3 linked regions of the Homo sapiens genome follow. The protein of the gene in region 2 interacts with the protein of the main gene of each other region in a biochemical or structural test. Each region holds a gene or a part of one and is shown on either strand. Other genes may lie near its edges.

Evidence for each region. Proteins that work in one complex are often made in the same cells at the same time.
Region 1: of the proteins of MARCHF5 (region 2) and ERN1, one has a biochemical effect on the other in vitro, tested with the Homo sapiens proteins (one study listed by BioGRID).
Region 3: the proteins of MARCHF5 (region 2) and IMMT form a complex in vitro, tested with the Homo sapiens proteins (one study listed by BioGRID).

The regions. Positions count from the first base shown.
Region 1 is NC_000017.11:64,038,352-64,043,935, forward strand, and holds the end of ERN1 (serine/threonine-protein kinase/endoribonuclease IRE1 precursor), read right to left. Parts: 3' UTR 791-5,584; downstream 1-790. UniProt on the Homo sapiens protein: Serine/threonine-protein kinase and endoribonuclease that acts as a key sensor for the endoplasmic reticulum unfolded protein response (UPR).
Region 2 is NC_000010.11:92,307,317-92,315,397, reverse strand, and holds part of MARCHF5 (E3 ubiquitin-protein ligase MARCHF5), read right to left. Parts: intron 4,264-8,081; coding exon 4,061-4,263; intron 1-4,060. UniProt on the Homo sapiens protein: Mitochondrial E3 ubiquitin-protein ligase that plays a crucial role in the control of mitochondrial morphology by acting as a positive regulator of mitochondrial fission and as an important regulator of immune response.
Region 3 is NC_000002.12:86,164,173-86,172,253, forward strand, and holds part of IMMT (MICOS complex subunit MIC60), read right to left. Parts: intron 7,210-8,081; exon of another isoform or gene 7,174-7,209; coding exon 7,036-7,173; intron 6,673-7,035; coding exon 6,577-6,672; coding exon of another isoform or gene 6,569-6,576; exon of another isoform or gene 5,141-6,568; intron 2,473-5,140; coding exon 2,336-2,472; intron 1-2,335. UniProt on the Homo sapiens protein: Component of the MICOS complex, a large protein complex of the mitochondrial inner membrane that plays crucial roles in the maintenance of crista junctions, inner membrane architecture, and formation of contact sites to the outer membrane.

The DNA of each region.
Region 1 (5,584 bases), on a different chromosome or scaffold from region 2:
CGGTGACACAACAACACCTCACCGCCCTTCATTCACCCTTGGAGTTGGCTGTGTCCAAGACTGCATCTCAGAGGAGGTGTGTGTCCAGAGGCCTCAGGGTCGCTCCTGGTGCCCTGCGAGGCGTGAGGCGAGTAGGATGGGATGGTGGCAGGTGGAGCTTGCGGAGGGCAGGAGCTAGCCTGGATGCAGCCCCCGCTAAGCTGTCCTGGGGCAGGTGGGCCCTTGGGGTCCTCCCTTGTAAGCTGCCCCCGGCCTGGCACTGCAAGAGCAAGTGGAGCCTCACCTGATTTCTCCATAGAGAGGGTGCAGGGGAAGGAGCAGGTGTGTTGGGAGGATTGCAAAGTCCAAGCAGACGTCAGCTGAGCTCATTCCACACGCCGCTGTCCCACTCTTTGGGGGCACTCCCAGCCCTTGTTGGTCTCAATGGCATTTCTCCCCTCCTGGGTTTCCTGGTCTGGTATCCTACCTACTGTACACATGCCCCAAACTCTGCTTTGAAGCCCAATTCTCACCACGTGGCATGACTGTCCCAGCTGGCCACCTTCCTGGAATTCAGCCCAAATCAGTACTTTTGGGAACTTCCTGCAAGGTTTCAAAGAAGCTTTTCTGACACACAGCCACCATGGAGGGTGTTCCAGTCCCCGGACCCTGCTGTGGACATGAGGACACCCATCCCCCACCAGCCGAGCCAGCTGCAAAGGCCTCATAATCCAGCCCCGGCCACCCAGAAGGACAGTGAGCACAGCCTATCTGAGAATGGTATTTGAATCTTTAAGAAAATGAGACTGACTCCAAAATCTAAAACTACCTTTATTGTGGTTGGCTCGACATAAGATGCCGCCATCAGCAGAATTATAAAACTGTACAGGAGGCACAAAAATAGGCTGTTTAACTTAGATAATGACCCTCATGTCTTCAAGCTTTAAAAATGCACATAAAAGTTGTACAATCTGGCAGTTTATAAAATATAAAGCTAAAAAGAGGATTTTGGGTTCCACAAAGAAGACTGTATCACACAATTAACACGTACTAATTAAACAATTAACCATCCACACAGAAGACATAATGGCACAGAATTCTTAAAAATCACCTAAAAATTAACATTTTACCCCGACCAAATTAATCACCCTTTAATAATAAGACTACTGTAAAGCATCCATCCCATGGAAGGATACAGTATCACTTTTCCAGTTTTAAAATGGTCAAGGGTGTTGTCCAAAACAAATCTGATGTGCTTTAAGCAAGTACAATTGTAACTGGATACATTTCAGAGTAAAAATTAAATAAATATAAATAGGTTAAATAAATAGGTCATTGCAAAAAGAACACTACACAAGGTTTACATCTGAGAATGCAGAGTAGGTGACTGGTAATGCTTTCTAGGTAAGTGGGGACTCCCCATCACAGCTTTAGGGACACTGAAAAGGAATACTGTATCCACCAAACACACACACAGTACACAGGGGAGGTGGGGGGGCTTTGGCCAAAGTGTTGGTTAAGGCTGCTCCAGTGGGAGGCTCACTGCAGTCACGTTCTTTGTGGCTTTCCAACGTCTACAGAAAGAATTTAAGCGCCGGTACAAAAAATCAGAACCAGAGTTACTCACGGGAAATCACTGTTTCATAAAGAAGGAGGGGAGTAGACCATTGGGTTTAAAAGATGATGTCCAACCTGGGAGGGTGGAATTTCGGCTCACCTGGAGAGGATGCCTGATGACTTCCTGCCAGGAGAAGCCAAAGCCAGGACATAGTCAACCAAAATAACTCCAGGTTGGTGAGGGAAGGGACAAGGAAAAGAAACACTGGGAAATTCAAAGAAAGGCAATCTCAGACACTAAAAGAGCAGAGAGAGAAAGCGACATGGGGGACTTAAAGAGGCTCCTTCCAGGGCGCTGGGCTTCTCTTCCAGCACAGAAGGCTGCAAAAGTGGAACTGGCCCCCAGTTCCCAGAGGATCACAAGGCCAAGGATCCAATGGGCACACCATGAGGACCCAAGGAAAGGACAGAGAAAGGAACGGCTCTGGGAAAGCCAAACCTGGCCAAAGTCCAACTTCCTGAAAAGAAAGCAGCCAAGAGGAGAAAGCCGTACAATCCAAAGGTCCCCCCATCTGCATGAACGGTTTGATCAGCAACCAATTAATCTCTCACTGCAGCAAGAAAAGAATTGCCAAAGATAACTGAATCGCATGCACACAAAACCTTACCAAAGGCTCAGGGTCAACTCTGATAAGGCCCTTTCTTCTAGAGTTGGTGGGAAGAAACTCTGCTGGATCTACTCACCTGCAGATCTTCCAGAACATCTATCTGTAACTGATCAGAGTGATGTCTCCTTGGAAGGGCCTCTGACCACCACTGCACTGAGAACACGGCGGGAGTGAGAACACCTGCGCACCCAGGATTTCACACTTAGCCACTAGATTGCTTCACAGCTAATCAGGGAAATGCCAGTGTTCCCCAGGTGAAAATGTTTTGGTGCCTAATGACTTGTGGAGCACTTCAAAAACTGAGATTAGGCCGGGTGCGGTGGCTCAAGCCTGTAATCCCAGCACTTTGGGAGGCTGAGGCAGGCGGATCACGAGGTTAGGAGATCGAGACCATCCTGCCTAACATGGGGAAACCCCGTCTCTACTAAAAAAAATATAAAAAATTAGCCGAGCGTGGTGGCACACACCTGTAATCCCAGCTACTCGGGAGGCTGAGGCAGGAGAATTGCTTGAACCAAGGAGGCGGAGGTTGCAGTGAGCTGAGGTCGTGCCACTGCACTCCAGCCTGGGTGACAGAGCGAGACTCTGTCTCAAAAAAACAAAAAACAAACGAAAAAACACTGAAATTAAAAAGACTCAAGAAGCAACAAGAGAAATTCTGGCACACGTGCCCAAGAGAGGTTTAGTAAGACAAGATTTAAATAAGTCATAGTGTCCTTTGGATTCCTAACAGATGTGACCAAGCTCCATCTTGAAGATAGCGTACAGTACTTCTAAAAAGCTCAACAGCCTTCCAGGATTGGAGAAGTCCCATAACCTGAACTACAGACCAAACAGCTAAGCCGCAACACGATATGTGATGGTGCAGAGCTGTTCTGGCCTGAAAAGAACTTTCCACTTGCTGAGCACAGTGGGAAACCAGAATTCTCGAGACTAGAACTGGATACACCAGATGATGCCCAAGGTGTTTTCATGACAAGTACCCACACGAGATCTCTTCAAACAAACCCCCCAGAGGATGGACGGGAACCAGGGCTCCTAAAGGCGACTAAGAGGAAAGACCAGAGGTGACCGGACCAGATCCCTGTGATTCTGGGACAGAAGAGATGTAAACCGCAAACACGCGCCCTTCCCCACACACTTTGGTTTCTTTGTGGCAGCAACACTTTTTTATTGTTCTCTCTCATCACAAGTTTTAGGAAAGCAGAAGTTTTGCCTGTCTTGTTCATCGCTGTATCTCCGGCACCCTATATCCTGCCTAGCTCAATACACTAAGTGCTCAAATAAAATACATTGAATAAATGATTTTGAGAAATCTGCGTGGTTAGAAACTAGTATGATAAGCAGAAAAGGCATCGGAAACAGTTGTCTCTAGGCAAGTGGGGCTAAAACAGGGAGATGACACAAAATTGGGTCACTAGAAATCACCTGGGTACTCCCAAAGAGAAAACCTGTGCTGAGAACGAGCTGGGCTGGGGGCACTCCCTGTGGCAGGCCTGTTAAATCACTCGTGGCACCTTCTCCACCTTCTGATCCTCTCTTGGGTTACTGCCAAAGCCCACAGGTAAAGCACCTTGCAGCCGTATGGGGAGCTCTGTCTCAGGCCACCTGGCATGCGGCATGGGAGCAGCAGGAAATGCGGTCTGGCCACGTTTCTGAACAACGCACAGCCTTGCTTAGAAGACGCCAAGGACACCGACCAAGGGCCAAGGTTCCAAGGCCTAAGTGAGGTAATCGATGAGATTTAAGGATGTAGGATCACGTTAATAGTAGGGAAAAAAGTCACTTTAGCTATGATGAAAGGAAGGGAACTGAATTCTACAAAGGCAGAATGAGAGCTTTTGATGAGTAACCATGATACAAATACACAAACAGAAAACATCTTACAACATGAAGAAACAGTGATTTCTCTGTGAGTAAAATTCAACAATCCCATTCTTAATACTGAATGGAATCTCTGAGTTCACCAGGCCTGAGCTGCAATGATCCCCCAACTGGCTGGAGAAAGTACATGGACAACATCTCCTTACACGGTAGGCTGATTGCATTTTAACCTCTAAGGCTCTCGGGAGAGAAAAGACAAAGTTTTGACTGAAACTAAAGCTAAAAATTATGTTAAGTTTAGAAAAAAAAATATGGTACAAACAATTTAGAGACTATTTCTTTGATACTGTTCAATACATTTACATAGTGTTGCTATAATGTTTTACTCTTCAGCATTAGAGAATGTTCTATACATGAACACTCTTGAGGGGATGGTGATTTTTGGTACCACAAAAAATAGAAGATGTATTCTATCTTGCATTTATTCTTCACAAGAAAGCTTCAAGTTTAGCTTACTTATGCTGACATAGCATTCTACAGTATAATCAAAATATAGTTATTAAAATTTGCCAAGAAAAACAAAAAAGCTGGCCCATGAAGCACACGGTGACCCTGGCCTTGGCCACCCACCCTGGCCCTGACTCACCACGAGCCTCTTGTTCCACCGGCCTTGGGGACGAAGGAGTTTGACTGCCTACTCGCTGGCCCAGGGCTTTCTCCTGGTGACCAGGAGGGTCCCATTCGGCGGCCTCCCTCTGGTCCTGAAGGCTGGCCCCTGTCTGGGTCTTCGCTGCTCTCCTTGAAGGCCAGGGAACTCTTTACCTCTTGCCCCAGGCGCTCCTGAGCACCACCCCGAGATGGCCCGGGACACACCCACCAAAGGCCACTGTTCTGGCCACTGGCACTGGGCCACGGCTGCCTCCAGAACAGAGCAGCCTCTTCATTTCTGAGACCTGCAGACACAACCCCACCTGCCAGCATGCATAGCTGACCAGTCCCTAATGCCACACCTCATGCTCATGGCTCCTGCTGCCTCTGCAGAAACACTAGTTAACAGTGACCTGGGCTACTCTGGGCACATCTGTGATCAATGAGAAATCTCACACTGCAGGACGACACCCTCTGAACTCCGTCCTCCCCCTCCTCAGCATCCCCCACCTCTCAATTCCGGTCTCCAGTGAAGGCTGTACTTGGTGCATCTCAGCCTAGCTGTCCCAGCACGCAAGCAAAATGTACGATTCCCTCCTCTCCCTTCCTGAAAGGCCTGTAGACTGACATTAAGCAGGAATTTAAAAAGTCTGAAGCAAGTTTATCCAGTAGATGGCTGGGGGTGCTACTCGCGCTGTCTCTGAGGCCCTCCTTTGCAGACATCATGACCGTAAGGCTTTTGGGGCCAGCATCTTCCCAGTTCCCTGTAGGTCACGAGGGGCCACTTCTCCCACTTCCTGGGGTCAGCACTGTCCTCTGTGGGCTGCAGAGCAGGCAGCTCAAGGCACTTGGTTTGGGAAGCCTGGTCTCCCTGCAAAGCCGGGAGGCATCAAGCTCTAATTGTGGTG
Region 2 (8,081 bases):
AAATTAATGACAAATGTGCTCAGACAGAAACAAAACAATCTACTGGCAAAATTCTATCATCAGATGACACTATCGGACATTACGTGCTACGTGTGTTATACAGAGAGGAAGAACAATTATTATCACAGATGCAGGCTCTTAAGTATTTTGTTTAATGGCTGCATGAAGCCACTAGCGTACAGAGTACGAATCAACTCTTAGTATATACGAATGTAACATGTTAATCAAGAAATACAAGCAACTTTTTAAAAGTTTTAGAAGAAGATATTTTCTTTTAACCAACAATTATTTTTGAAACTTGAATTGAAAAGTTGTGCTGGAATCAGCATAGCTAGAGCACTAGCTTTGTGTGCAGCAATGAAGAGCCCACCACCTGAAAGCCAATTCACACATGGCTTCATTTACAGACAACAGCTGGCTTGAGTCATTGTTAATAACTGCATGGAAAATTGTGAATATAATTAAAATTGCAGCCCTTGAATAGGTATCTTCAGCATGTTAAGAATGCAGCGGCAGGCTGGGCACACAGTGGCTCATGCCTGTGATCCTAGCACTTTGGGAGGCCAAGGTAGGTGGATTGCTTGAGCCCAGGAGTTTGAGACAAGCCTGGACAACATAGCAAGACCCAACCTCTATTGGCGGGGGGGGGCGGGGGGAAGCAGCAGCAGCAAATACTCTGTTTTTCTGTTTTGTCAAGAGGAAATATGCTAACAATACCTACTCAAATGAAGGATATACTTTTTTTTTTCTTTTTTTGAGACAGAGTCTTGCTCTGTCGCCCAGGCTGGAGTGCAATGGTGTGAGCTTGGCTCACAGCAACCTCTGCCTCCCAGGTTCACGTGATTGTCCTACCTCAGCCTCCCAAGTAGCTGGGATTACAGGCGCCTGCCACCACGCCTGGCTAATTTTTGTATTTTTAGTAGACACAAGGTTTCACCATGTTGGCCAAGCTGGTCTTGAACTCCTGATATCAGGTGATCCGCCTGCCTTGGCCTCCCAGTGTTGGGATTACAGGCGTGAGCCACCGTGCCCAGCGGATATTCATTTTTTTTTATAACACTGATGTCATTAAAACATATCTATGATTTTAAGCGGCTAACTCAAGTGCCATACCTCTATGACAGACAGTATAGTGACCAGCTTGAACATATCATTTGAGAGTAAAATTATAATTCTCTCTTTTATTTAAGATTGGTTTCACTCTGTCACCCAGGCTAGAGGGTAGTGGCGCAATCATAGCTCAATGCAGCCCCAAACTCCTGGGCTCAAGTGATCCTCCCAGCTGAGCCTCCCGAGTAGCTAGGACTTACAACAGGTGTGCTCCATCACACTTGGCTAATTTTTTTTCTTTTTCTTTTTCTTTTTTGTAGAGAGACAAGGTTTTGCTATGTTGCCTAGGCTGATCCTGACCTCGTAACCACAAGCAATCCACCCACCTGAGCCTCAAAAGTGCTGGGATTACAGATGTGAGCTACCATGACTGGCCACAATTCTTTTTTGTTGTTCAGACAGGGTCTCACTCTGTCTCCCAAGCTGGAGTACAGTGGCGCAATCACAGCTCACTGTGGCCTCCACCTCACAGGCTAAGGCAATCCTCCCACCTCAGCCTCCTGAGTAGCTGGGACTACAGGTGTGTGCCACCATGCCCAGCTAATTTTTTTTTGTTATTTTTGGTAGAGATGGAGTTTCACCCTGTTGCCCAGGCTGGTCTCAAGCAATCTACTCGCCCCAGCTTCCCAAAGTGTTGGGATTACAGGTGTGAGCCACTGTGACCCGCCACAATTTTTTTTTTTAGCACGGCGTCTCGCTCTATCTCCCAGGCTGGAGTGCTGTGGCGCTATCTTGGCTCACTGCAAGCTCTGCCTCCCGGGTTTACGCCATTCTCCTGCCTCAGCCTCCCGAGTAGCTGGAACTAGAGGCACCTGCCACCAAGGCTGGCTAATTTTTTTGTATTTTTAGTAGAGATGGGGTTTCACTGTGTTAGCCAGGATGGTCTCGATCTCCTGACCTCGTGATCTGCCAGCCTTGGCCTCCCAAAGTGCTGGGATTACAGGTGTGAGCCACCGCGCCCGGCCCGGCCACAATTCTTAGTAACAAAATATGCAGACTAAATAATGATACAAATGGCTTAACCAAAGAGTTTTACTCTTTTCTTTTTTCTTTGAGATGGAGTCTCGGCTCTGTCGCCCAGGCTTGTGTGCAGTGGCACGATCTTGGCTCACTGCAACCTTTGCCTCCTGGGTTCAAGCAACTCTTCTGCCTCAGCCTCCTGAGTAGCTGGGACTACAGGCACACGCCACCATGTCCAGCTAACTTTTGTATTTTTAGTAAAGACATAGTTTCACCATATTGGCCGGGTTGGTCTCGAACTCCTGACCTCGTGATCTGCCCGCCTCTGCCTCCCAAAGTGCTGGGATTACAGGCGTGAGCCGCCACGCCCAGCCAAGATTTACTCTTTTCTAACAACTAGGTAGACTTAAAACCATATTCAATTACTGCACTAAACCTGAAAACATATTTCCTAGAACTGAATTCAACCAAAAGGACAGATCTACACATTGCCATCTCCAAAATTAAAATACTCAACTTTGCTTTCGAGTGCCATACACTTGTCAACTTGATGTAGTTTTCAGTGAGAATTCTTGTAATAATTTTTGTGTCCATTTGAATATCTAAAACATCTAATAGAAATATTTAATTGTTGCTCTTCCCAACTCTATAATTCAAAGGTGGGGCTATCTAATTTAGTACAACTAAGAGCAAGAAAAGAAATCAGTTAAATATGAAACCTTAACTTGGACTTTAGTGAGTCTTTCACCATTCATGTGGTGGTACAATAATGTGAACAATCATTGCTTTTCCTGATACTGATTTAAAAATACTTCTTTGATCTTACAATAAAAACATTTTGAATTATTCTTTTGTGTTTATCTAAAATCAGTGGTATGCACTGAAGACCCATCACATGGTCCACAAATTCCAAATGTTTGAAAACACTACTTTCTCTACTACACTACTTCCCCTTCAAAGGAAGCTATCATTTCTTCCTGTGCATGTTAGAGAAAAACAGAGAACCAAGGACATTTTGTTTGCCCTTATTATTAATCTTCTCATATTAGAAAAGCACTTCATTATCTGCATTTATGTTGCCACATTTTCAAAAACATTGGTCTGATTTCAGTATGAATAGCACTTATAAAAAACAATATATATAATAATTATTTCCAATTTTTCCTGAATTCCCTCTGCCCCCAAAGACATTCTTTCCTTATGACCTTCCCAGAACCCAAGCTGCCTTCCTATACCTCTTGGTTACAGTCAAGGGTTATAAAAAAATGTTTAACAACTGGCATGGTATAAACACCAAACCAAGAGATTGACACCAATTTATAACTGTATGGCTGTAATGGAACAGGCTCACTAAATATCAGCCTTAGTTATACTGCTGCTAAAGAAGCAGCCTTAGAATGCTTCTTGTAAGCAGTCTGCTATACTTTTTTTCCATGCTAGGCCTGTTCTCAAAGATCTTTGGTTATTTCTTACCTGCCACTTCACAGAAAAGGGATAGCAGGGTTCATGAAAGAAACCACATAAATTGGATTCCAAAGATGAGTTTAACGTCACATCTTATTAAATATTTAATTTCTCTACTTTTATTCCTTAAAAGGAAGAATTAAGGAGAAGTATTAGAACATACTACTGCTTTCTTTCTCTTACACCGTCTCCAGATAATTAAGCTAAGTTAGTTTTTTTTTTAAAAGTCAGCTTTTTATTAGAGCTTTGTTATTCAATTATATCCACACAGGTATGCAAGTTCTTTCTCCTTTCTATCAAACAGACAGTTAATACACAGGCAAATGGATAAATTTGGGGATATATTAAGGATACTGTAAACTGTTAGCAAAAGAAATAAATGTCTGACATTCAGAGAGGAAACAAGAGAAAGGGAATATAGAAATTCACACCCTAAAAAAAAGAGGTGGTTCATTTTAAAATGAACTTATAAAGTTATATATAATAACATCAACTATATCTGTGTTGTTTTTAAAGATATTCTTACCCAATTTTGGAAAAACTATTAGGTATTCAGCATTGCACTGAGGACATGCCACTCTGGCTGTACTGTTTCCTCTTTGCTTTTCATCCACCCAGCGTTGTAGACAGGCCTGGTGAACCCATTTTGTAGATCCTCTGCACCTGCATGGTCTCACCCATTCAGCTGTTCTATCATCTTCATCAGTAGCAAAACAAACCCAGCAACTTCTGTAAATTAAAAGAGAAAAGGATGACATTTATATCTTTAGGACTCCAGCCTCCTCTATACTGCAGCTCTTACTTAATGGGATGAGCCTGCTATGTTATATTACAGAATCTCTGTCCTATATTAAAAGACTAAGGAGACAAAACAACCAATACATTCCCACTAGAGCAGTTTCTACTTTTTCTGTTTTTCCTTGTCTTCCTCTACAGAACTTATGTTTTCTGAACTTTGTTTTTATGTAATCTCCTCTATCTTTTCAGTAATTCTTCACCTTCTCTAATGAACCAGAGTGCAAGGAGACAAACCTCAAGTTGTTTTTGTTATAAGACCTAATAATTCTTTGAGGAATAGTAAGCACAGTAATATATTAAATTCAGTGTTCTCCCCAGTTCACCACCACCAATCCCTTGAACTTGGAAAAACAAAGTATTACACGAGTGATTTCACATACAGTCTCATTCCATTTTTCAGCTGAGGAAAAAAAAACCCATTTTTCTTTCCGGTAAAGTATAAACATGAGAGAAAACAATATTACATTTTCAAAAAAGCACAAAGGAGATAAATATATCAAGATTTTTTTTTTTAGAATAGCAATATGATAAATTTGGGCGTGTATGCTTGAAATCTGAAATCTAGAAGTATCAAGTCTGGGGTGCTTATATTAATAAAAATAAAATTCTATTGAGATCGGTAATTTTAAAACATTTTCCCACTTTGCTTTTAAGGGTACTTCATGAATTGTAATTTTTTCTTGTGGAATTAGGTTGTAATTCCTCAGTTTTTCTCCCAATTAACACAAGTTTTGACATCGATTTCCATCAGGGCAAATACAGTTCAATTCAATGAGACCCTTCGCTCCTCCCCTCCATTAGAACTTGTACAAGTGGAAACAACTGCTAATTAAAGCATGTTACCTACTGTGCACTTTTTAATTAATTGGATAAGTGGCTTCTGTCAGAACAACTAGCTTAACTATGCTCAGTGGGAAAGACTATATACTCAGGTATTATAGATGGGTGAGGTTCTCCAGTCCTTGTGGAACAACATGAATTTCAATTGTGTGCTCCAATTACAATTTTTCAATTAGAACAGAAAAAAAGTTGAACTGAATCCAGGGCATCAATATCCAAAATAGTTGTTTTATTCAGCTTTCAAATTCAGTCAGGTTTCATAAGATCTAAGTAAAATTAGAACGTAGGTAGCATTTGTTTAGCATTCTGACCCTTTTGACCCACTTTAGCTAAGCTGTCTGGGCCTTCACATTGTCTTATGGTTGTCCAAAAATACTTTGTTCTTTTTTAAAAAATTTTATCGTCAAATAGACATAGCATAAAATCTACCATTTTAGCCATTTTTTAGGTGTATAATTCAGTGGCAGTAAGTATATTCATACTGTTGTGCAACCACCAAGACTACCCATAGTAGGACTGGGTTCTAACCTATGATTTTTGCATAAAATTTCAATTGGTAAGTATACTAGCACACAGGCTGGTTAAGATGTTGTTAGTATATATTTTTCCCCACAACTGAGGTAATTTTGTGGACATATTTGTATACATCTAGGAAATGGAATGTATCATTTTAGCAACAAAATACTGGCAGAATATTTAGAGACTCTTTAGTCTCATACTTTCTTAACACAAACGTAAATAAGAATAGCTACATCAGCATAATTAATCAGTATTATGGTGAATCACATTTTAAATTAATCCAATTTCAGTCATCAGAAAAATAAAATACAATGTTAGGACTAGGTTGAACCAACTGAAATAGTCTACATTAATCTGTTTCTGACTTACAGAAAAGATAGGTCAAATTTCATATTTTGATCTAATGAGAATACTTGTGTAGCTATTATATTCCTTATAAATTCTAGATAAGGTTTATTTTTCCCAAACATTTTATTATGAAAAATTTCAAACTTTCCAAAAAAAGTTAAAAACTGTTCAGTGACTACCCATATACCCAACATTTAGATTCTATAATTCTTATTCTGCTATATTTGCTTTCTCACACATCCATTCATTATTCTTATTTTTTGCTGCATTTCAAAGTTGCAGGCATCAGTATATTTCAGTCCTAAATACTTGTACAGATTTACTTTTTAGAACTGACATTTAAAGCATGCACTTGGCCGGGTGCCGTGGCTTAAGCCTGTAATCCCAGCACTTTGGGAGGCTGAAGCGGGCGGATCACAAGGTCAGGAGATTGAGACCATCCTGGCTAACACGGTGAAACCCTGTCTCTACTAAAAATACAAAAAAATTAGTTGGGCATGGTGGCGGGTGTCTGCAGTCCCAGCTACTCAGGAGGCTGAGACAGGAGAATGGCGTGAACCCGGGAGGCGGAGCTTGCAGTGAGCCAAGATCGCGCCACTGCACTCCAGCCTGGGCAACAGAGCAAGACTCCGTCTCAAAAAAAAAAAAAAACAAAAAACAAACAACGCACGCACTTATGCACTTTCAGTTTTTTTTCTAATTAATTTCACAACTATGGTAAATAAGATAGCTGAATGATGATTCAGAGTGCGTACTTATCAGGAGTTAGGCTTTCAGTTGAAATAGCAGTATTAGAGGCATGTGAACCAGAGCAACTCCGTCTTGATTGAATAGGAGCTGGGTAAAATGAGGCTGAAACCTACTGGGCTGCATTCCCAGATGGTTAAGGCATTCTAAGTCACAAGATGATATATGAGGTCAGCACAAAATACAGGTCATAAAGATACTGCTGATAAAACAGGTTGCAGTAAAGCCAGCTAAAACCCACCATAACCAAGATGCTCACGAGTGACCCCTGGTCGTCCTCACTGCTACACTCCCACCAGCACCATGACAGTTTACAAATGCCACGGCAACGTCACGAAGTTACCCTATATGATCTAGAAAGGGGAAGCATAGGCTGGGCGCGGTGGCTCATGCCTATAATCCCAGCACTTTGGGAGGCTGAGGAGGGCGGATTATGAGGTCAGGAGATCGAGACCATCCTGGCTAATATGGTGAAACTCCGTCTCTACTAAAAATACAAAAAAATTAGCCAGGCGTGGTGGCAGGTGCCTGTAGTCCCAGCTACTCGGGAGGCTGAGGCAGGAGAATGGTGTGAACCCAGGAGGCAGAGCTTGCAGTAAGCTGAGATCGTGCCACTGCACTCCAGCCTGGGTGACAGAGTGAGACTCCATCTCAAAAAAAAAAAAAAGGGGGGAAGCATAAATAATCCTCTCCTTGTTTAGCATATCATCAAGAAATAACCATAAAAATGGGCAACCAGCAGCCCAAAGTCTTGCTCTGTTGCCCAGGCTGGAGTGCAGTGGTGGTCTCGGCTCACTGCAACCTCCGCCTCCCGGTTCAAGCGATTCTCATGCCTCCGCCTCCCAAGTAGTAGGATTACAGGGTGCCCGCCACCATGCCCAGCTAGTTTTTGTATTTTTAGTAGAGATAGGGTTTCACCATGCTGGCTAGGCTGGTCTTGAACTCCTTACCTCAAGTGATCTGCCCACCTCAGGCTCCCAAATGCTGGGATTACAGGCATGACCCACTGCGCCTGGCCACACACAGCTAATTAAAAAAAAATTTTTTTTTTAGAGACAGGATCTCCTTATGTTGCCTAGACCAGTCTCAAACTCCTGGGCTCAAGCAATTCTCCTGCCTTGGATTCCCAAAGTTTTGGGCGTGAGCCACTGTGCCTGGCCAAATATGTTAAGTTCTAAAGAATTTATTAACTGATTTGCTATCTTACTAGTTGTTTAAATTTAATCTACCTAGTATGGAAAGAATAGCAGTCTATGAAATGAGGACTGGGCAAAGGGGAAATTAAAGCATGTAAA
Region 3 (8,081 bases), on a different chromosome or scaffold from region 2:
TCAGTCTCCCGAGTAGCTGGGATTACAGGCATGGGCCACCATGCCCAGCTAATTTTATATTTTTAGTAGAAACGGGGTTTCTCCATGTTGGTCAGGCTGGTCTCGAACTCCTGACCTCAAATGATCCACCAGCCTCAGCCTCCCACAGTGCTGGGATTACAGGTATGAGCCACCACGCCTGGACCGCTTTAGTCATCTTGAAAATAAAATACATCAAGAATGTATACTGATTTGGGGCCAGGCATGGTGGCTTACGCCTATAATCCCAGCACTTTTGGGAGGTGGAGGCAGGTAGATCACTTGAGGTCATGAGTTCGAGACCAGCCTGGCCAACATAGTGAAACCCTCTCTGTACGAAAAATACAAAAATTAGCCAGGTGTGGTGGTGGGCACCTGTAATTTCAGCTACTTGAGAGGCTAAGGCAGGAGAATTGCTTGAACCTGGGAGGCAGAGGTTGCAGTGAGCAGAGATCACGCCACTGCACTACAGCCTGGTGACAGAGCAAGACTCTGTCTCAAAAAAAAAAAAAAAGGAATGGATGCTGAGTTGGGCCACATGAACTGACCCAAATAGAATTACAAAGCATGTAAATGTCAATGACATATCTGGGGGCCAAAATTTATCACCCTTGTTGAAGGTACTCCTGCTTACAGAAGTCCAAGGAAAACCTACCCTGTAACAGACACAGATTCCCCTACAACCAAACTAAATCCTAGTATTACCAAATCCAACTCTTCACAAACACTGCTTTGTGAAAGTTATTCAGTATATATTAGAAATTACATGTGCACCTGTAGCTTCTTGTACTAGAAAAAACAAAAGCTGGAATTCATTCTTAACATTCCAAAATGTGTTCATACATTTTTCCAATTATTTTGTACATTAGCTAATACTCTCATCTGTTAACTGCTACCATTAGATTGTAAAATCTTGACTGCAATAGATTTTACACTGTCTAATCACCATGTGCTACACATTATGTGCGTTAGGAAGATGAAATACCACCTTGTGTACCCTTATACCCAAGTAGTAACATGGCATTTAAAGCTTCCAATCCGTGTCCTTCTGAGGGATACTGGTCTACTTGGGTTTGAACCCAACACCCTTACATCACGCAACTTCTAGCCTTCCCATATCGGTAACCAGCAAATTAAATTTCCTGGGTGGTTTCCACTTTGCTGACTGAACTCTGATATTTAAGTATTTTTCTTGGACTTTGAATAAAATGGAATTTTCCTTAAAATTTCAAAGGTTGTAGTTTCTTGCTACTAACATCAGAGGTCTAATTAAACTCTTTTGTAATATAAGTACATACGACTGAAACAATGTAAAGTGTGTGTAAAATTTTTTTTAAAACTACAATTATGATGGCAAAGTAACTTTACTGACCATGTATGATCCTGATCCTTAAGATTAATAATTTATGCATTTTACTTTAATTTACTCCTTAAATGACTTGGAATAGAGATACATTTATACATACTGAATAACTTAATGTAATTATAAAATAATGTATTAAGTCCCAGTATTAAATTTTGAAAAATCAATGTTATTACTTCATTCTTTGAAGTGTTTCGCATAAATAATCATAAACATTTAAAATAGCAGGTGTTTCAGGGAACATGAGAGCTCTCTGTATTATTTCTTAAAACTGCATGTGAAGTTTGAGAAGTATCTTAAAAAGTTTACCTATGGAAATAGCAATTTTAAAGCAAACAACAAAAATATTTAAGTGCTATTAAAATATGAAAGCAAATCTGAACTAATTCTTGCGCTGCATCGGTGTTGTAAGATATAGTAAAGCACAATGTATAAAATTCATTCTAAAAAACTTAAAGGCTTTTTTCAGTTTGTTTTTTAAACATAATTACTCTAAGGCCAAGCACAGTGGCTCACGCCTGTAATCCCAACATTTTGGGAGGCCGAGGCAGGCAAATCACTTGAGGTCAAGAGTTCCAGTCCAGCCTGGCCAAAATGGCAAACCCTGTCTCTACTAAAAGTACAAAAATTAGCCGGGTATGGTGGCGGGAGCCTGTAATCCCAGCTACTCGGGAGGCTGAGGCAGGAGAATCGCTTGAACCTGGGAGGTGGAGGTTGCAATGAGCCGAGATCGCACCACTGGACTCCAGCCCGGGCGACAGAGCAAGACTCCGTCTCAAAACAATAACAAAAAAAGATTAATTATTCCAGACTATCTTCCCCTAGTGAGAGAAAGCCGATATCATACGGAAGAAAGCAGTCTGTTAAATATTACACTTCTCTCCACCCTCGATTTTTCTTTTTGTCCTCCAAGTCATGACAGCCAGAACACTTCTAATCATTCATTGGGCTCACCTCAGAATTGTCCATGGCGGCTTTCAATATGTTGGAGTGTGCATTGACAGCCTGGACCGCAGCATTCTGAGCTGCAATAGCCTGCAGAGTGACACTTGCAGTTTGCCTCAGAGCATCTTCTAAGCTCTTGGCTAGAGCTTAAAAAAAAAAAAGAACAGTTAAAAAACAAATCCTACCCCCATAAATGACTTTAAACTTTTGCTGTTCTCCTATCTAGTCTTCCATTGCATTTCCCAAAAAATTTAAAAAGGAACAAAATACATGAGACTCAAATTTAGGGAATCAAAGTTTCACTTAAAAGTATGGTAAAGGCCGGGCGCAGTGGCTCATGCCTGTAATCCCAGCACTTTGGGAGGCCGAGGCGGGCGTATCACAAGGTCAGGAGTTTGAGACCAACCTGACCAATGTGGTGAAACCCCGTCTCTACTAAAAATACAAAAATTAGCCAGGCATGGTGGCGGGTGCCTGTAGTTCCAGCTACCTGGGAGGCTGAGGCAGGAGAATCGCTTGAACCTGGGAGGTGGAGCTTGCAGTGAGCCGAGATCATGCCACTGCACTCTAGCCTGGGCGACAGAGCGAGACTCTCTCAAAAAAAAAAAAGAAAACATGGTAAAATACTGATAATTTAGTCTGGATGATAAATCTATGAAGCTTTATTACACTTCTTTTTTTTTTTTTTTTTGAGACAGAGTCTCGCTCTGTCGCCCAGGCTGGAGTGCAGTGGCGCGATCTCGGCTCACTGCAAGCTCCGCCTCCCGGGTTCACGCCATTCTCCTACCTCAGCCTCCCGAGTAGCTGGGACTACAGGTGCATACCACCACGCCCAGCTAATTTTTTTGTATTTCTTAGTAGAGACGGGGTTTCACCATGTTAGCCAGGATAGTCTCCATCTACTGACCCCATGATCCGCCCACCCTGGACTCCCAAAGTGCTGGGATTACAGGCGTGAGCCACCGTGCCCGGTTTTTTGTTTTTTGTTTTTTTTTTTTTTTTTGGAGACGGAGTCCCACTCTATCGCCCAGGCTAGAGTGCAGTGGCACCGTCTCAGTTCACTGCAACCTCCGCCTCCTGGGTTCAGGCGATTCTCCTGCCTCAGCCTCCTGAGTAGCTGGGACTACAGGTGCCTGCCACCACGCTCAGCTAATATTTTGTATTTTTAGCAGACAGGGTTTCACCGTGTTAGCCAGGATGGTCTCGATCTCCTGACCTCGTGATCCATCCACCTCAGCCTCTCAAAGTGCTGGGATTACAGGCGTGAGCCACCGTGCCCAGCCTACTTTTTCTTTTCTGTATATCTAAACTTTTTCAAAATAAAAAGTGTTTTTTTTTTTCAAAATTATTTAAAGAAGGGTAATGTATTTCAAATGGGAGAAACAAGGTTTAGGACACTATAGCCCCTTTTACATATTGTGGCTATAAACTCAACAAATCCATCAGCTTTCTTCATTTTAAACAACAATCGTAACAGGGAAAAAGAGGTGCCCATTTCATCCCCTTGGCAAGAAGGAATACTCATAGCAAAACACTTATGTTGACAAGATACAAGAAAACAGACAAGAGAAAGAAAAAGACAAATAAGAAAACAGGTCAAAAAATACAAAACAAAACCCAAAGGCAACTTGAAATGGACAGTGTTCTTCCATAAAAGGACTCAAGAAATAGCAGACACCAATGTTCAAGAGGCTTCCATCTATTAAGATCACATTTCTATATGCTGTTTCGGGAATACCAAAAAGTAAAGCAAATGACAATTTTAGATAATTTACTAAAATGCAAAAATAAATGGTCATTTGAAGAAAGGCGGCTAGTAAGAATACTAATTTAATAATAAATGGGCCGGCGCAGTGGCTCACGCCTGTAATCCCAGCACTTTGGGAGGCCGAGGCAGGTGTATCACCTGAGGTCAGGAGTTCGAGACCAGGCTGGCCAACATTGTGAAACCCCGTCTCTACTAAAAATACAAAAATTATCCAGACATGGTGGTGGGTGCCTATAGTCCCAGCTACTCAGGAGGCTGAGGCAGGAAAATCGCTTGAACCTGGGAGTTGGAGGTTGTAGTGAGCCGATATTGCACCACTGCACTCCAGCCTAGGTGACAGAGTGAGACTCTGTCTCAAAACAAATTAATTAAATAAATGATATCACATGACAAAAAATAAAAAATGTATTTGACAAGCGAGAAAAAAAGATGATTTTGAGGAAAAGAAGCATAAACTAGCAATGAACAAATGGAATCTGAGGAACTACAAATGGTACCTCTGCAAGAAAGATAAGAGGAAAACTAATAAGGAGAAAATAAAAAGAAATTGACAGAAGTGATAGAAGTGAAATGAGAGCAGGGGATACAACAAGAGAAAGGGGCAAGGGAGAGAAACCGTGGTATTTGGATCCCATGACATGCGTGAGTGAACAGTGGACATCAAGTACAGGCAGTTGTGAACCACTTTATGGAGGCCACAGAAAGTGGGCTGCTGGGAGGCACCTGCTGCTTCCAGCCCTCTTCAGAGGTTTAGTCACTGTCCTTTGATCCTTGATAAATATTTCACATGCAAATGCATATGTGTATATTTTTAAAGTCAAGTTTGAGGGGGAATTAAGAGGTGACAGATAAAATTCTGAAAATTTTCACTTTGCCCAAAATGAAAGATGAGAGGAACCAGGCAAGGAAAAGAACAGCTGGAACAGCAGACATCTCCATCTTACGTTTATAACTTAATTTCAAGGTGCCCAAGTGATAAAGAGAGAAAAGTGAAAAGTGAAGAAAAAACAGGACTAAAAGAAAAAAGAAGTAGGAAAAATGAAATATTTCACTTAGTTAGAAGTCATTTATTAAATATTCACAAATATTTGTAACACAATCAGAAGAATACAAAAAATCAAAAACGAAAATCCAAATCCAAGTAGGAAAACTAATGCCATAGGCACAGAATGACACCTATGCTATTCTAAGAAACTTGGTTCCTCAGGGTAGGGCAGAACCAGCACATTACAAGGGAAACAGGAGCAAAACAAATGACAAGGAGATCAAAAAACTATAAACAGCTGCCATGAGTACTGAACTCTCTGTCCAGCAAAAAGCTACATCCCACGACCTCCAGAGACATCAACATATTATAGCACAGTACAAAAAATTATGTTACATGTGCTTTAAGACAGAAAAATAAATTGATAAATATCTATTATCTTTTTTAAACCATCAAAAAATTTAAGAATCCTGACCTACCGAGGACAGCAAAAATAATAATAATGATAAAAAAAACTTGGCCAGGTGTGGTAGCTCATGCCTGTAATCCCAGCACTTTGGGAGGCCAAGGTGGGAGGATTTCTTGAGGCCAAGAGTCCAACACTACCCTGACCAACACAGTAAGAGCCCATCTCTTAAAAACAAACAAACAAAAAAACCATAAAACTGAAACTTAAAAAGGAATATGCTTGTTAGCTGGAAACCAGCGATGTGTAGAACATTCCATGCCCCACCAGTGTCAGATAAAAGCACTACTAGAGAGTCCAGAGGCTAGATGATAAGGCAGTGTAAGCCATTCTGACTCCAACAAATAAATTTACAATTATTAATAAACAATTATTTACAAGTATAAATTAACAATTATTAATAAAAGACTCTTAGGGCTGGGTACAAGGGCTCAGGCCTGTAATCCCAGCACTTTGGGAGTTCAAGGTGGGAGGATCACTTGAGCCCAGGAGTACGAGACCAGTCTAGGCAACATAGTGAGATGCCTGTGTCTATAAAAAATTTTTAAAAAATTAGCTGGGTATGGTGGTACACGCCTGTAGTCCCAGCTACAGAGGAGGCTGAGGTGGGAGGATGGCTTTGGCCTGGGAGGTTGAGGCTGCAGTGAGCCATGACAGTGCCACCGCACTCCAGTCTGGGTGACAGAAAAGAGCCTATCTCAAAAAAATAAATAAAGGACTTTTAGGCAAGCTGCTAAAACATAAATAATCAATTTCTGTTTCCCAGAGTATAAAGAATCTTTAGCGCTAACATAATCTTTAGTATTATTTGGAGTTTTCACCAACTATACACTAAGAATAGCCTTTGTCACTTAGGTAAAAGAAGTTTAGATGAAATGAAGGTGATGAATAAAGCAATGCCACTAAAAAACAACCGCAGCAACAAAAGAAACCACAACTAGGTGATAGATGACAAACTTGTGCTGATAGTTTAAGAAGAGAGCAACTGGGAGATGACCCAAAATCCTTAAGAAGCTGTCTGGTTTACATACACTCAATTTTAACTTGTTCTTGTTTTTCCTGTTGTGCAAGGCGAGCTGCAACTTCTTCAGGTGGTCGCTCCCTTATAGAAGATGAGGATGCTTCTTCTTGCAGCAAAAGTAAATAAGAGGAAATCAAATTTCAGCATAGAATTTTAATAGCTAACAGGGATATAAAAAAAGCATCGTTTGTACTGGCCAGTTATATCAATGCAGGGCATTTTTGTGTTAAGAATTCTAAAACCATATCATTACTCTTAATGATTCCAAAATGAAGAAATAGGAATCAGGCTTTAATCTTCTTGTTTAAAAAGATACATTCGGACATTTAAATTTTAAAAATTTCCTAAGAAACTCTGAAGACCTAAACCTAGTGTAAATGTATACTTAGTGTCTACGTGTTGCCTAGGCATTAAATAGTTCTGATGAGTGTATCATGTATAAAAGAACAAATAGAAATAATTAAATTACCTGAAAGTGCAGGTGTGGGTTTTCCTTCACCAATTTCAGGGTGATCAGTTTTTAAAGATTCCTCAGGCTGAACTGCAGGGGCTGGGACCGACAGGGTATCACCTGCTGCAGAAATAATTTGAGCCGCTTCTGTAGGTGCTATAAATATATGTTACTCATGGTATTTATACTTTCCTGGGTTAACAGAGAAACACACAGAAATTTACTACCACCATCACCACCCACTTCACATCTGACTCCTTAGAGACACAAATATTTGTACTGCCACATGTTTGAATAACACACAAACAGGGGCACTGTCCACTGCATACATAAACTCACACAAAATGGACAATGGTTGGGAACGAACAAAAGAAAGAAGTCTTGTCTGCATCCACCTGCATTTTAACCATCATTATTCCAGGCAAGGCTTATAATAATAATATTAACACACAAGAAGGGGACATTTACACATGGAAAAAGAGTAACAAAGGAAAAAGCCTGTTAATGATGAAGACAGACAAAAGAAAGCAACTAAACAAAGAATATTTTTTAATTGCTTTGAAGAGTGGTAGAAGACGTGTGAGCAGGAAAAAGATTACAGTTTTAAACAAAAAGATGAAAGGTCACAGTGATCAAGAACAGAACTGAGTTAAAATACATATATATATATATATTTTTTGCACACTTTGGGAGGCCAAGACCAACCTGGCCAACACAGCAAGATCCCATCTCTATCAATCACTCAATCAATTTTTTGTGTGTGTAGTATATTTTTTTTTTTTTTTTTTTTTTTTGAGACAAGGTCTCACTCTGTTGCCCAGGCTGGAGAATAGTGGCACTATCATGGCTCACTGCAACCTCGACCTCCCAGGAACAAGCAATACTCCCACCTCAGCCTCTGGCACACAGCTGGGACTATACGTGTATACCACCACACCTGGCTGATTTTTACATTTTTTTGTAGAGACAGGGTCTCCCCTCTCTTGCCCAGGCTGGTCTCAAACTGCTAGGCTCAAGTGATCCTCCCTCCTCGGCCTCCCAAAGTGCTGGGATTACAGGTGTGA